Regions from separate parts of the Homo sapiens genome. Here all the other regions are linked to region 1. Evidence: fine-mapped expression QTL. A gene starts in region 1. Each other region holds a variant in brackets. All regions are shown on one strand. Distances are between the middles of the regions.

The links. PIP is the estimated chance that this variant, and not a neighbour inherited with it, causes the effect. A credible set is the group of variants that fine-mapping cannot tell apart.
Region 2: its variant is the best candidate, but not a certain one, in a credible set for the expression of HPS4 in fibroblasts (GTEx, PIP 0.78).
Region 3: its variant is the best candidate, but not a certain one, in a credible set for the expression of HPS4 in whole blood (INTERVAL, PIP 0.89).

Annotation. Positions count from the first base shown.
Region 1 is chr22:26,481,660-26,485,927 of GRCh38, forward strand. HPS4 (HPS4 biogenesis of lysosomal organelles complex 3 subunit 2) reads right to left here and starts at 2,124. Exons shown (of 14, transcript NM_022081.6): 1 at 2,015-2,124; 2 at 63-581. The coding sequence starts at 103. SRRD (SRR1 domain containing) reads left to right here and starts at 2,218. Exons shown (of 7, transcript NM_001013694.3): 1 at 2,218-2,440. The coding sequence starts at 2,232. RefSeq lists an enhancer at 2,172-2,291 and a silencer at 2,312-2,401.
Region 2 is chr22:26,503,686-26,507,953 of GRCh38, forward strand. It overlaps TFIP11 (tuftelin interacting protein 11), which reads right to left. Exons shown (of 15, transcript NM_012143.4): 5 at 3,090-3,243; 6 at 2,618-2,774; 7 at 1-108. Among named protein-coding and RNA genes, the nearest start is that of TFIP11, 6.7 kb to the right of the region's middle. RefSeq lists an enhancer at 2,395-3,594. The variant A/AGTGCAGTGGC (reference allele first, on the strand shown) is at 2,086.
Region 3 is chr22:26,512,432-26,516,431 of GRCh38, forward strand. It overlaps TFIP11 (tuftelin interacting protein 11), which reads right to left and starts at 42. Exons shown (of 15, transcript NM_012143.4): 1 at 1-42. It overlaps TFIP11-DT (TFIP11 divergent transcript), which reads left to right and starts at 101. Exons shown (of 2, transcript NR_144529.1): 1 at 101-603; 2 at 981-2,137. RefSeq lists enhancers at 1-104, 327-864. The variant C/T (reference allele first, on the strand shown) is at 1,864.

The sequences.
Region 1 (4,268 bases):
AACCCCAAAACTCTAACCAACAGCCCAGCAAAAGCTATGCCATGGCAGGCCTTGTTACTCACCACGAGGCTGACTTTGCCTCTGTGGAGGTAGAGGTGGCCATCTACTGTGCAGTCATCCTCATTCTCTTCATTTAGGTTTTCTTTTCCGGTATCACTTCTTTCTCCCTAGCTGTGACCGTTCCTCTATCCCCCAATCCAGTGAATCTGGACGTGGTAGGTTTCAGTGTTTTCAGTCACAACTGCCACTTGGTTAGTTTTCACTCAGCATGGAAAGTTCCACTTCCCTTCCTTGCAGGTTCTTCAGTTTCATGTATATTTCCATGCCTCTTACAACTCAGGGAGAAACTATAACAGAGAATCCTAGCAGAAAAGTCAAATCCATTCCTCTGGTTTCCTAAGTATCACTGTGGCTGTCTGCAGAACCACCTCTTCAAGCTCCTCTCCAGGAAAGCCAAAAGTGGGAGATGCATGCTAGAGCTGGTGTTCTAAAGAAATTTCTAGCTTGTCTAGTTCAAACCCATCCTGAAGACTCTTATTAAACGTTTTGAAGTTTCCAGTTCAAACATCAGTGCCTTGGCTCTGAAATAAACACAAGGAATAGATATTTCAGCAACTCGTGAGAGAGCATGTGACCCAGCAGGATTAAACGAATGGTATATTTCAAAAGAGCTTTCTGTGAGGGTGACAATCATGCTTCAAAATCAAAGAGGGAGGCTTGCAGAGACTTCAGAGTAAGGGCTTTAGTTTCTCGAACAGTTAAGGGAAACACACCACAAGCTTCACGGAAGATAAAATCAAATGACAGGGTGAAAATGCTCTAGGTGTGGACAGCTATACAAATAAACCAGTTGCTGTGGTAATAATGGAACCCAAATTAAGGAACTGTCATCTTGACAGTCCAAAAGTAACCTGAACATGCAGAATTCCAGAGCAGGGCAAATTTCTAAAAAATGAAGAGAACTTTATCAAATGGCTTTCAAACTTCCACAAGAGAAAGACAGCTCAGTGTATCACGGAATTTCAGAGTCGGAAGGAACCCTGGCATCGTTTACTCTACTCTCCTGCACTCTTTTCCAAAAATTACCTTGGCTGTCTCTGCTTTACACCCTCCAGAGATGCGTGGTTCACTATGTTACATTTCTCCTTCCAACAAACTAAAATCTGCGTTCCAGATTTTACATCTGCCTCCCACTCGCTAGTCTGGATAACGCTCTGCAGGAAAACACAAAACAAGGTCTAATTCTTCCATGTGACAACCTCTTGGTCACTTCAAAACTATTGTCTAATTCTTACTGTCACTTTCTCCAAGCTTAATGCTTTAGCAACATGGTCTCAAATGTTTGCTCACCATTCTGCAATCTGTGGGTACACAATACAGTTTGTTAAAAGTCTCTAGAGACGACCCCCATTGAATATTTGACGGCCTGTAAAATCTCTATCTCTTCTCAGCTCTAGATATTTTGGATTGGGCCTCCACAGGACCACACTCATTGTATTCTATGGAGCATATTTGGGTGCCTGTGGAGGGGGTATCTCTGTTACTGGAACCAAGGACAGCAGCCTAAAACTCCCCATCCCTTGTTCCCAGAGGACTGGGCCCTACACTACCGAGGTCCTCTCTTATCTCTGAAAGGTCCAGAAGAGACCAATAATGGCCCTGGAGTAGGAAGAGACGTCGGAACATGAGCAGAAAAGGATCTGGTAGCCTGGGAAGTAATAGTAACAACGCGGGGCTGGGGCTGGTGATACTGCTGTGGGAAGGGGCCTCAGTGGGGCAGCAGGGCTGGAAAACGGACGCTAATGGCTGGAAAAGGGCCAGGAAGCTGCTGGGCGCAGCCCCCGGGGCGCAGGCAGCGACTGGTAACAGCACTAGGGCTGTGCGGTGTCTGGCCCCAGCTCTACGGGACTGGGAAATGGTGGGCGAACGCCTAAGGATTAGGCGGGGTCGGGTCACGCTCTAAGCTGGGGGCCCGCCCCTCGGTATCCCCGCGCTCCGAGCGCCGCCCACCCACCGGAGTAGCCAGGCATCCCAGTGCTCGGGGTTCGGGACTCTGGACCAGAAATGTGGGCAGCAGCTGGGTACCTGCGACTTCTGCCCCGTACCTGCGCGCGCGGCAGAGAGGCCTTAGGTCACGCGCCGCCCCGCCTACCTCCCCCTCCAGCTCCTGGCAAGCCGGCGCGCGGCGATGACGTGCCGAGTGCGCCGCACGCCGCTGACGTCAGAGACCAATGGCTGCGGCCGCAGCTGCGGCGCTGGAATCCTGGCAGGCGGCGGCTCCGCGGAAGAGGCGCTCCGCGGCTCGACGGCCGCGGCGGAGGGAGGCGGCGCCCCGGGGGAGAGAGGCGGCGCCCCGGGGGAGAGAGGCGGCGCCCCGGGGCCCCGAGGCGGAGTTCGAGTCTGACAGCGGAGTCGTGCTTCGTCGCATCTGGGAGGCTGAGTGAGTGCAGGCTCGGCCCTGATGGAATCTTTGCGCCCATGGGCAATTCTGAGCCACAGTCTCCCCATCTGTAGAGTGGAGATATAATGCACACCCTTTAAGGAGTTATTGTGAAGAGTTAACGTAGGTAACGAGCTCATTAAAGATGTGGATTATAGTAAGCGCTCAGTTAAAGGTCGTCTTTCCTTTTATTACGGTTACAGCTGCGTGACCTTGGACAATTTATAATCTCTGTGCCTCAGTTTTCTCATCTGTGAGATGGGGATGAAAATAGTACATACGTAGGTTTGTTTTGAGGATTCAATGAATTAGTAAACGGAAACCATTTTCTGGCACGTGGTAAGCACTGTGCCAGTGTTTGCTATTAATATTATGCCGATGTTGATATTATTGGTGGTGGTGACACGAGGGAAGCAACATGAACACGTGACTGCTATCATCAGGCAGCTGCTATGTGCCTGACATTAGCTTAATCATTCTACACACTTTATGTTAAACATTGCAGGCATACTAGGACCCTGGTAGCTCACTGATTCTCAAAGAGACAAAGAAAATGTGTGGAACCAGATTTCAAACCCAGGTCTTTGTGACAAAAACCAGTGCTTCCAGCTTTCCATTATGCTTGTTGCTTATCCCAGCCCAGATTCTCACATACCTTGCTCTGTACCTTAGAAAGTACATAGAGAGTGCCTAATACAGAGGAAACACTCAATAAATGTTACTTATTATTGTTATTTAGTATTATTATCTTTATTCGCAGTTTTGTTTAGGCTCAATAAATAACAGCTTTAGTTAGCACTTAAGATCAGCATCCGAAGGGCCGTCACAAGGGGAGAAATTAGATTAATTTTGTGTGCTCCTCTCCCCTAGAATTAGGGTCAAGAGGCAGTAATGTCCCAGAGTTTACCTCTGAAGAGAAAGTTGCTGACCATTTGGCTCAGCCTGAATAAAAAGCACCTGCGATTATTTTTAAGCTCTCAGAGGATGCCAGTGAGAGTGAATGTGCCTAGGGGTTTGGAAAACTCAAGGCATTTTTCATATCCCTTGACACTGTCACGATCTCCTCAACTGCTTCAGTATTCCCCAGGAGCTCCTTGCTTCTCCCAACACCCAAGTGTGGTGCAATCACCATCGCTCTGAGTAGAGATTGAGCCAGCATTTTACACGCATATCTGTGTACGCATTTACCAGTTCATAAAGCATTCCTGTGTACATCAGAACTCTCTACCCTCTGTGAGAAACGTGCAGCAGCCTCTGGGCCGACTTTCAATTCTCTGTACTCCTTTCTGAACCCCATAATCACTGTCTCTGGCTGTGGCTTGTCAGTTTAAATCCAGTTCATTTTAATTCACTGTTGACTTTCTTTTGCTCTGGGTCTGTAAAACCAGTTGACTTGAATAAAGAAAGCCCAGACACTTGGTTTTGTCTCTTTACTTTCCCCTTAAAACTATTTATAATAACAAATACCATTTGTTGAGTACCTGCTATGTGCCAGACACTGGGCTAAGAATGTTAACCCATTTTATGCCTCTAAACTCCTCCGTGTTGGGAATGATTTTTATCCCCATTTTAGAGATGAGGAAACTAAAGCTCAGAAAGGCTAATTCTGAGCACTTAACAACCATTTATTGAGCTGCAATTCTATGCTAGGCTCTGTTGTAGACTGAGAATAGACCCAGATCTCTCTCTGGGAATCAAGGACCTCCTCCAGCATACTCTCTCCTGCAGTCTCTGAGCCCCAGCAGTATGTGCTCTGGCTCTGGACATATTCAACATATATCCCCCTCCTATCACTTGGTAAGGGTGGGCCCTGCATTGCAGGGCACCT
Region 2 (4,268 bases), 22 kb after region 1:
AGTCAACCACAGGGAAGTCTTGCATGGACTGAGTGGTGCGCTCGGATCCATAAGCCCCCACAGCACCTTTTCCCTTTCTCTGCTTGGCTTCAATTGGGTTAATGATACCTGAGGAATTTCAGCAAAAAAAAAAGAGAGTCTTACGATCACAGCAATTCATGTATGTGAATCAGCCACTCAGTGAAATGACAGTTTCTTGCTCCTTCCACAAAATAACATGCTACTCAGGAAGGAGAGCTATTCTCTGCCCTCAGAACACTACTCTTGTCCCTTGTGATTTGAAACTTATGAGCATTTATGCTACCACAGAACAGTCTGCTGACTAGTTTATTTATATCCCAAATAGATTTCCATTTCCACTTGGATTGTTTAGTGGACAGGAAGAAAACAGAACACTACATTTATAACTGAGAACTCCAGCACACTAAATTCTATGCTTCACTTCTTTGGGAGCCTCTATTAGGGAAAATGCAATAATTCCAATACTATACTGATTCTGACTGAAGTGAAGCTGCAATTTAATATAAGACTCCTCACATATTTTACTTAGGAGTTCCTATCTCCTGTGTTTAACTTTTTTATAACAAGTTTAAGCCCTGGAAATAAACGTTGTTTTTCTCATAAAAGAGTTTACGAATAGGACCACAACATTTCAATGAAGACGTTCCCCTGACTCCAAATTTTCCATCCCTGCCCCCCTTCCATTTAGTTCCACTGAAGTCTTAAATAAGAGCTATCCCTGGGCCAGATGTGGTGGCTATGCTTGTAATCCTAGCACTTTGGGAGGCCAAGGTCTTGAACCAGCCTGGGCAACATAGTAAGACCCCATCTACAAAAAAAGAAAAAATTAGCCAGGCACAGCAGAGTGTGCCTGTGGTCCCAGCTACTTGGCAGGGTTGAGCCCAGGAGGTTGAGGCTGCAGTGAGCTATGATCATGCCATGCCATTGCACTCTACCCTAGGTAACAGAGTGAGACTTTGTATCAAAAAAAAGCAAAAAAACTGTCCCCTCATTCTCATTCAGTGTATCTTTACTCAAGTTCATGTATTTTTCATGTACCTAATGTTTTCAACACATAACCTGGATTTCACTTTAATAATTATTTAGAGGCCAGGCGCAGTGGCTCACACCTATAATCCCAGCACTTTGGGAGGCCGAGGAGGATGGATCACTTGAGGTCAGGAGTTCGAGACCAGCCTGGCCAACACAGTAAAACCCTGTCTCTACCAAAAATACAAAAATTAGCTGGGCGTGGTGGCGGGTGCCTGTAATCCCTGCTACTCGGGAGGCTGAGGCAGGAGAATCACTTGAACCCAGGAGGTGGAAGTTGCAGATGAGTTGAGATCGTGCCACTGCACTCCAGTCTGGGTGACAAGAGTGAAATTCTGTCTCAAAAAATAATAATGTTATTATTATTATTTAGAGACTGGAATTTGAATATGTAGGATACATTTGATTATATCTACTTGGCAATCATGCATAGGAAATAGCTCAAGAAGAGGGGGAAATGTTCCTGTAGGAAGAATCCAACTGTTTGGTTTGAGAGGCTTTGGTCTCAAGAAGGTAAGAGTGTGACAGGGGCTGTGTCTCAATGGGGCTGGCCATGAGAAGACAGGAGGAGACTGGGCTACTAGAGGAAGATGGAAGTAACCAATGCAGGATTTGCTCAGCCAGTTTTATAGCCATATGGCTCTAGCTATTACAAAAACTATGCACGATGTTTTACTGATATTCCTGAAGGACAAATAGGGTTATTTCCACAAAATTAAAACCCTTGTGAGTAGGGATGGCAAACTCAAATGACTCTGGGACCAAGAAAAGTTCCTGTGGGTTGGGGTGGAAGACAACAGGGGGTAATGGAGACTGCCTCCAAGAGAAGGCCATGTCCATCGTCCCAGGAGCAGTTCTCACTTGCCTCAACTAACTACTGCCAGGCAAAATCTAGAATTTTAGGTGAAATTGTCTGTTTTTTAAATATTAGCAACTAATTCATTTTTGTTTTTATTTATTCTATTTATTTATTTATTTATTTATTTATTTATTTATTTATTCAGGGATGGAGTCTCGCTCTGTTGCCCAGGCTGG[A/AGTGCAGTGGC]GTGATCTCGGCTCACTGCAACCCCCACTTCCTGGGTTCAAGCGATTCTCCTGCCTCAGCCTCCTGAGTAGCTGGGATTACAGGCACATGCCTCCACACCCAACTGATTTTTGTATTTTTAGTAGAGACGGGGTTTCACCATGTTCATCAGGCTGGTCTTGAACTCCTGACCTCAAGCGATCCACCACCCGCCTTGGCCTCCCAAAGTGCTGGGATTACAGGTATGAGCCACCACACCCAGCCTCATTTTTGTTTTTAGAAGCACTGGTCAGGACCAGAAAAAAAGCCTGTTTTCAACCTGTTTGCAGCCTGTTTTAGACCCTAACCCTTTCCTTGCTGTTGAAACAATTACTTATTTAACTTGAGCTTTGATAAAGCAAGGTAGCTTAGGAACGCAAATGTCTTGTGCTGGCAAACCAGGCTGGAGAGATAAAGTGCTTTTAAAAGGGAAAAGCAAACCTCCTCTCCCAACGCCCCTCTCCTTCCCTATGCCTGCCCTCCTCCATCATGCAAGACGACAAAGGTGCAATACCTTGTGCATTCTTCCCGAGGCCCCGTCCAGGGACGTAGCCCATCTTCTGAAGAAGCTTCTGTCCAATTCCTTTTGTGTGTCTTTCCCAGCTGCCGAAGTCCATGAAAGATTTGGTTCCTCCTGCAAAACCTTTCTGGCTGGGCTTAAAATTGCCACCCTGCAAAAAAGAAAAATCAAAGCTTAGTTAATGGAAAAACAAAATGAAGAAAAATCTAAGAAAGCTTGGCCAACAGGAAAATGGCCTAAGTTATACAGCACTATGAAAAGTGTCATATGAACCAAAAATGTGTGTGATAACGTGTCAGGAAGGAAGAGACTGCACTACACACTTCACAACTCACAGAAACCTGCCACCAAAAGGAGACACTCACGAAATTCATTCCAGATGAGTTTCTCCCTGGCTAGAAAATGCTTGGGCCACAATGACCTTTGAAGGATATTCCTAGGGTCACAATCCTGCAATAGAGACTACCGTTTTTAGCTTCCTTGGTCCAAAATCCTTAGGAAAGTCGTCCTGCTTAACAGGTTTCTCTTCGTCATCAGAATCTTCCAACTCTGCCTCCTCCGCTGCCCCTTTCTTGAGCCCTGCGCTGATGAAGTTGACTGGCGCAGAGTAGTCACGGGCCCTGTAGGCACAGAAACAAAGCCCCACCAGGTCGGTAAAGAACTCTTTTCTCTGCAGCGATCCTTTTGCAGAAACTACGTGCTTGAAGACTCCTTAGAGTGAATCTCATGGGAGGTTTTTTAAAAAAGTAACACATTTTTTAATGTGTCAAAAAATCCAAAGGACCCCAGATTTGGCTTCCTGTAGTCACATTTAACATTTTACCTGACATATCCCTCTACGGCTGAAGAGTTATCACATCAATGTAGGGTTGATTACAAATTCAAAATATGATGTGATAATACAATTTTCCTACATTTTAAAAAATTAATTTATCATAAAAAGCAATTGTTTTGAAAACTATTTCAAGTACAAAAATCCAACAGGAGCAGAAATTTTGATGGAAAATCATAAATAAAACCCATTGAAAGATTATATGAATGTAAAGCATGTAACAATTATATTAATCAAACTTAGAAAAAGCTCCTAGCCATTAAATTTATTTGAATGTGAAAATTTCCAGCCAGGGCAACATGGTGAGACTTCGTCTCTATAAAAAAAAAATAAATAAAAATTAGCCAGGCATGGTTGTGCAAGCCTGTGGTCCTAACTACATGGGAAGCTGAGATGGGAGGATTGCTTGAGCCCAGGAAGTTGAAGCTGCGGTGAACTATAATCATGTCACTGCACCCCAGCCTGGGCAAAAGAGTGAGACCTTATCTCCAAAAAAAAAAAAAAAAGAAAAGAAAATTACACTAAAGTCCCCTAAGAAATAAGAAATTAACTCTATAAAATGAAATATATTGATTTAAACTCTGACTGCTTCAAGTACTTACATTAAGCCATTAACCTCAGGTCTTTTTTGTATAAAATAAAATTGATATATTTGTACTGTGTGGTTTAAAAAAGAAAAAATTACAATAAAAAACCCTGGAGCCAGGTACAGCGGCTCATGCCCATAATCTCAGCACTTTGGGAGGCTTGAGGCCAGGAGTTCAAGACCAGCTGGGCCAACATAGCAAAATCCTATCTCTAATAAAAATACAA
Region 3 (4,000 bases), 31 kb after region 1:
TCCGCGCGAGAAGACGCCGCTCCTACACCAGAACCCGGAAGCACCGTGGCCGGCGCGCCGGAAATGACGTTAGTCGACAGCGGATGTCCTGCTGGCTGCCAGGGCAGCGTGGGACGCTACGGCGGATATGGCTGCAGAGCGGCCGGCTGGGATCTTAGATAGGAGGGGTGGATTTGCAAGGCCTAGAATAGCTGGGGAGTGGTTTCCCCGCGGAATCGGCCTCCCTGCCGCTCCTGCTTTGTACTGTGACGCTCAGCCTGTGATGACTGGTGTGGAATCCGCTGAGCCACCTTGGCCTAAGGAGACTTTACCACTCTGAGATTGTAAATCTGTAAAATAGAGATGTAGGATTAGCCCATACGGTAGTTGTGGTAAATACTGTGAGACAATAAGGGGCCTGGGACACAGCATTCAAATGGGAATAATGAAGGTCAAGACTGTGATTCCTGTATCTTTGACGCTCTCGGTATAAGCACCGTCGTGGGCACAGGGCAGTGGCCTTTATGCAGGAGTTTAAGAGGGAATGAAGGAATGAATGGGCAAACTCTGGAGTTCCCAAGTATTCTCTCCAGGAGCTGTTTCCATTCTTTTCGTTTCCAGCAGGTTGGTAAATTCATTAATTTATTCATTGATCTAATTAAAATATACTAAGTGCCCCTCACCTGTGCTAGGCCAATGTGATACAATGAGCAGAACAGTCATGGGCCCTCCCTGGGAAGCCCTCACTAGCCCAAGGACTCCTTGTAGACATTTAAGTGTCCACAGGCTCTGGAGTTCCAACCTTGAGTGCAATTTAGCAGCTGTGGACCTTGGGCAAGTCATTACATCTAAGCCTGTTTTCTCTTCTGCAAAATGGTTAAGGATTCAATAAGATAAAACTGTAGGCAATGAAAACCGTACCTGGTAACAGTAGGTGCTGAAGAAGTGTTAGCTATTAATTTTTGCTTAATTTTTCTCTCTCTGCTCTATGTGATGAAAAGATTCAAGAGGCAATTGTTGGAATGTAAAAAGAGCACGGGACTTGGAGTCAAATACTTAAGTCTACCATCAAGTAGTTGTTAAGAATTAAACAACAATTTTTGTGTACCCAGTTAAATGTGGGCTGCTTAGGAATGATGACTGTGTCTTAATGATCTCTGTATTCTTAGTGACATGTAGAATCATTGTGCCTGACACATAGTATGTACTCAGGAAAGAAATGGAAAATGTGGTTTTAGCATTGAAGGCCGGGAGAGAGGGTCTAACAGACTACAAGCCCTGCCAGGAGCAGAGTAAGGGAAACAGAGGAGAAAAGTGTTTTTAGTCTGTGCCTGAATGTATTTACATCTGTTTGTAGCCCAAAAGCCAAAAGCATACATACGCTTGGCTTTTCTGTAGCTATGTTTATGGCTTTACAGCAGATTTTATGGAGCTGCAATTACTTTGATCATGAGGGACTGATGCTAGTGGATTTACTTCACCAAATGGAACTCACTTTGTGGCTTCTGAAGAAGGGACCTTTGTGGACTGTCATGGAGTAGTTAAGAGTGCAGGCTCTGATTTAGTGATCAGAGTCTGCATTGTCAGGAATGGGACAAAGTGAAGTTATGTGGCACTTGATAGGATGCCCTGAGAAGATTGCAACATCACCCCTGTGATATTCCTGCTGAAGATCCATAACCTGGATGTAATCATGAGGATATATCAGACAAACCCACGTAAAGAGACATGCTGTATACAAAACTGTAATCTTAGAAAGTGCCAAGGTCATGAAAATCAAAGATAGACCCTGGAACTGTTCCAAACTGGAGGGGACCAAAGAGGCATGACAACTAAACACAACACATGATTCTGAACTGGATCTTTTTGCTTGAAAGGAAGTTA[C/T]AGGGACAGTTGGAAAAGTTTAAATGGGGCCTACAATGCCGTGGTAATGATGTGTCCGTGTTAATTTCCTGATTTTCATGGTTGCCTGTTAAGTTACATCAGAGGATGTTCTTGTTTGCTGGAAAGTAAATCAATGTATTTGGCAGGGGATAAGGCATCAAATGGTCACCTTAATTTCAAATTATTACAGGGAAAATGTTTCTCTCTGTACTTAATAACTTTTTTGCAATTTCTTAAAATGAAAGCTCTGGAGTAAAAACTTCAAGGATCCAAATCTCGACTTTGCTACTTCTTAGGTATGGGCCCGAGGGCAGGTTGCTTCACCTCTCTACACCTCAATTTTTCCATCTGTAGATTGGGGATAGTGACAGTACTGATCTAAGAGAGTTGTTTAGAGAAAAACAAAAACAGAAAGTGATAATTAGTGCATGTAAAGCTCCTGGCATGGTAAGAGCTTTCTAAAGGATTGTGGCTATATTCTTATTTATTTATTTATTTATTTATTGAGACAGAGTCTCACTCTGTCGCCCAGGCTAGAGTGCAGCAGCACAATCTTCGCTCATTTGCAACCTCTACCTCCCAGATTCAAGTGATTCTCATGCCTCAGCCTCCCGAGTAGCTGTCATTACAGGCGCAGCTGTAGTGATTCTCATGCCTCAGCCTCTCGAGTAGCTGGCGTTACGCCGCCACGCCCAGCTAATTTTTGTTTTTTTATTTGTTTTAATTTTTTTTTCCCCCAGACAGAGTCTCACTGTGTCACCCAGGCTGGAGTGCAGTGGCACGATCTCAGCTCACTGCAACATATGCTTCCTGGGTTCAAGCAATTCTCCTGTCTCAGCCTCCTGAGTAGCTGGGATTACAGGTGTGCGCCACCACGCCTGGCTACTTTTTGTATTTTTATTAGAGATGGGGTTTCAACATGTTGGCCAAGCTGGTTTCGAACTCCTGACCTCGTGATCCACCTGCCTTGGCCTCCCAAAGTGCTGGGATTACAGGCGTGAGCCACTGCGCCAGCCTTCATTTTTAAAAACCCAATGTCATACCCCTTTCAGTCTCAAAAATCCATGGTTTTTCAGGATTTCTGGGATCAAATGCCCAGCCTTTGAAAAACAAGGAAAAGTTTTACAAGGCAACCAGAGCTTTAGGTTCAAGGTCTCATATCTATCGTGATCTCCTGTCATTTCCTAGAGGGGAAAAAAAAAAACAAAAACATTGCTTTGAGATTTGGGAACATCCACACTCATTTCTACATTCCCAATGAGGTGCTCAGACATGTGGCCTTCGCAGAAGGGGTTGCCAAAGCAACAAGGCTCCTTGGGCAGAAGGAGTCTGGCAGGGCCCTCCAGCACTCATGGGTCTATACCTCTCTTTTCGCAGCTGAGGCGGTGGGGGAGCCCCTGGCAGAGTGGAGGTGCCAGCACCACACAGTGAGTTTAAGGACAGGGCCAGGCCTGAAACCCAGGAGCTCAAACTCCCAGGCAGGTGCTTTCTTTGCAAAACCATGCATGGGGTCCCACATCATGATTCCTGTGTGTTCAGGGCCACAGAGCCAAACTCTGCAGACATCATCTCTTTGATTCTTCAGCCTTCTAAGGTAGTTTGTTATAACCCCAGAGTCCACATTCCTAACCTCTTATTTCTACAGCCTATGCCATACAGCACACTTTCCATATTGCCTACAAAAGATTTCGGGAAAAAAATATCGTCACTTAGTTACAACTTTAAATAGGTTGGTACCATAGAAACAATCCATAAGTGGCATTTCAAAGCTGATATATTTAAAGACTAGCACATGTACTTTTTCTAGGACAGTGACATTATACAGTTGCACATGGCTTATTCTTATTTTGCATTTTGTCCCAAAAATATATATGGTGTCCTTAACTTGGCAGAATTGAGAACCCAGATCAGCTGAGATTAGCAATTTGATTTCCCTCTAAATGTTTCTTACAGATGGTTTCTACCCTACTTATCTTTCAAGAATTCGTGAAGACTCTATCCTTATATGGAAAGCTGGAACATGAGGTTCCTTAGGCTCGGGGTGTTTATCTGGAAATTAAATATCCGCAAAACACAGTAAGGGGAGAAACCACAGCCTTCATCATTCATTTATTCATTTGTCATTAACAAATAATTA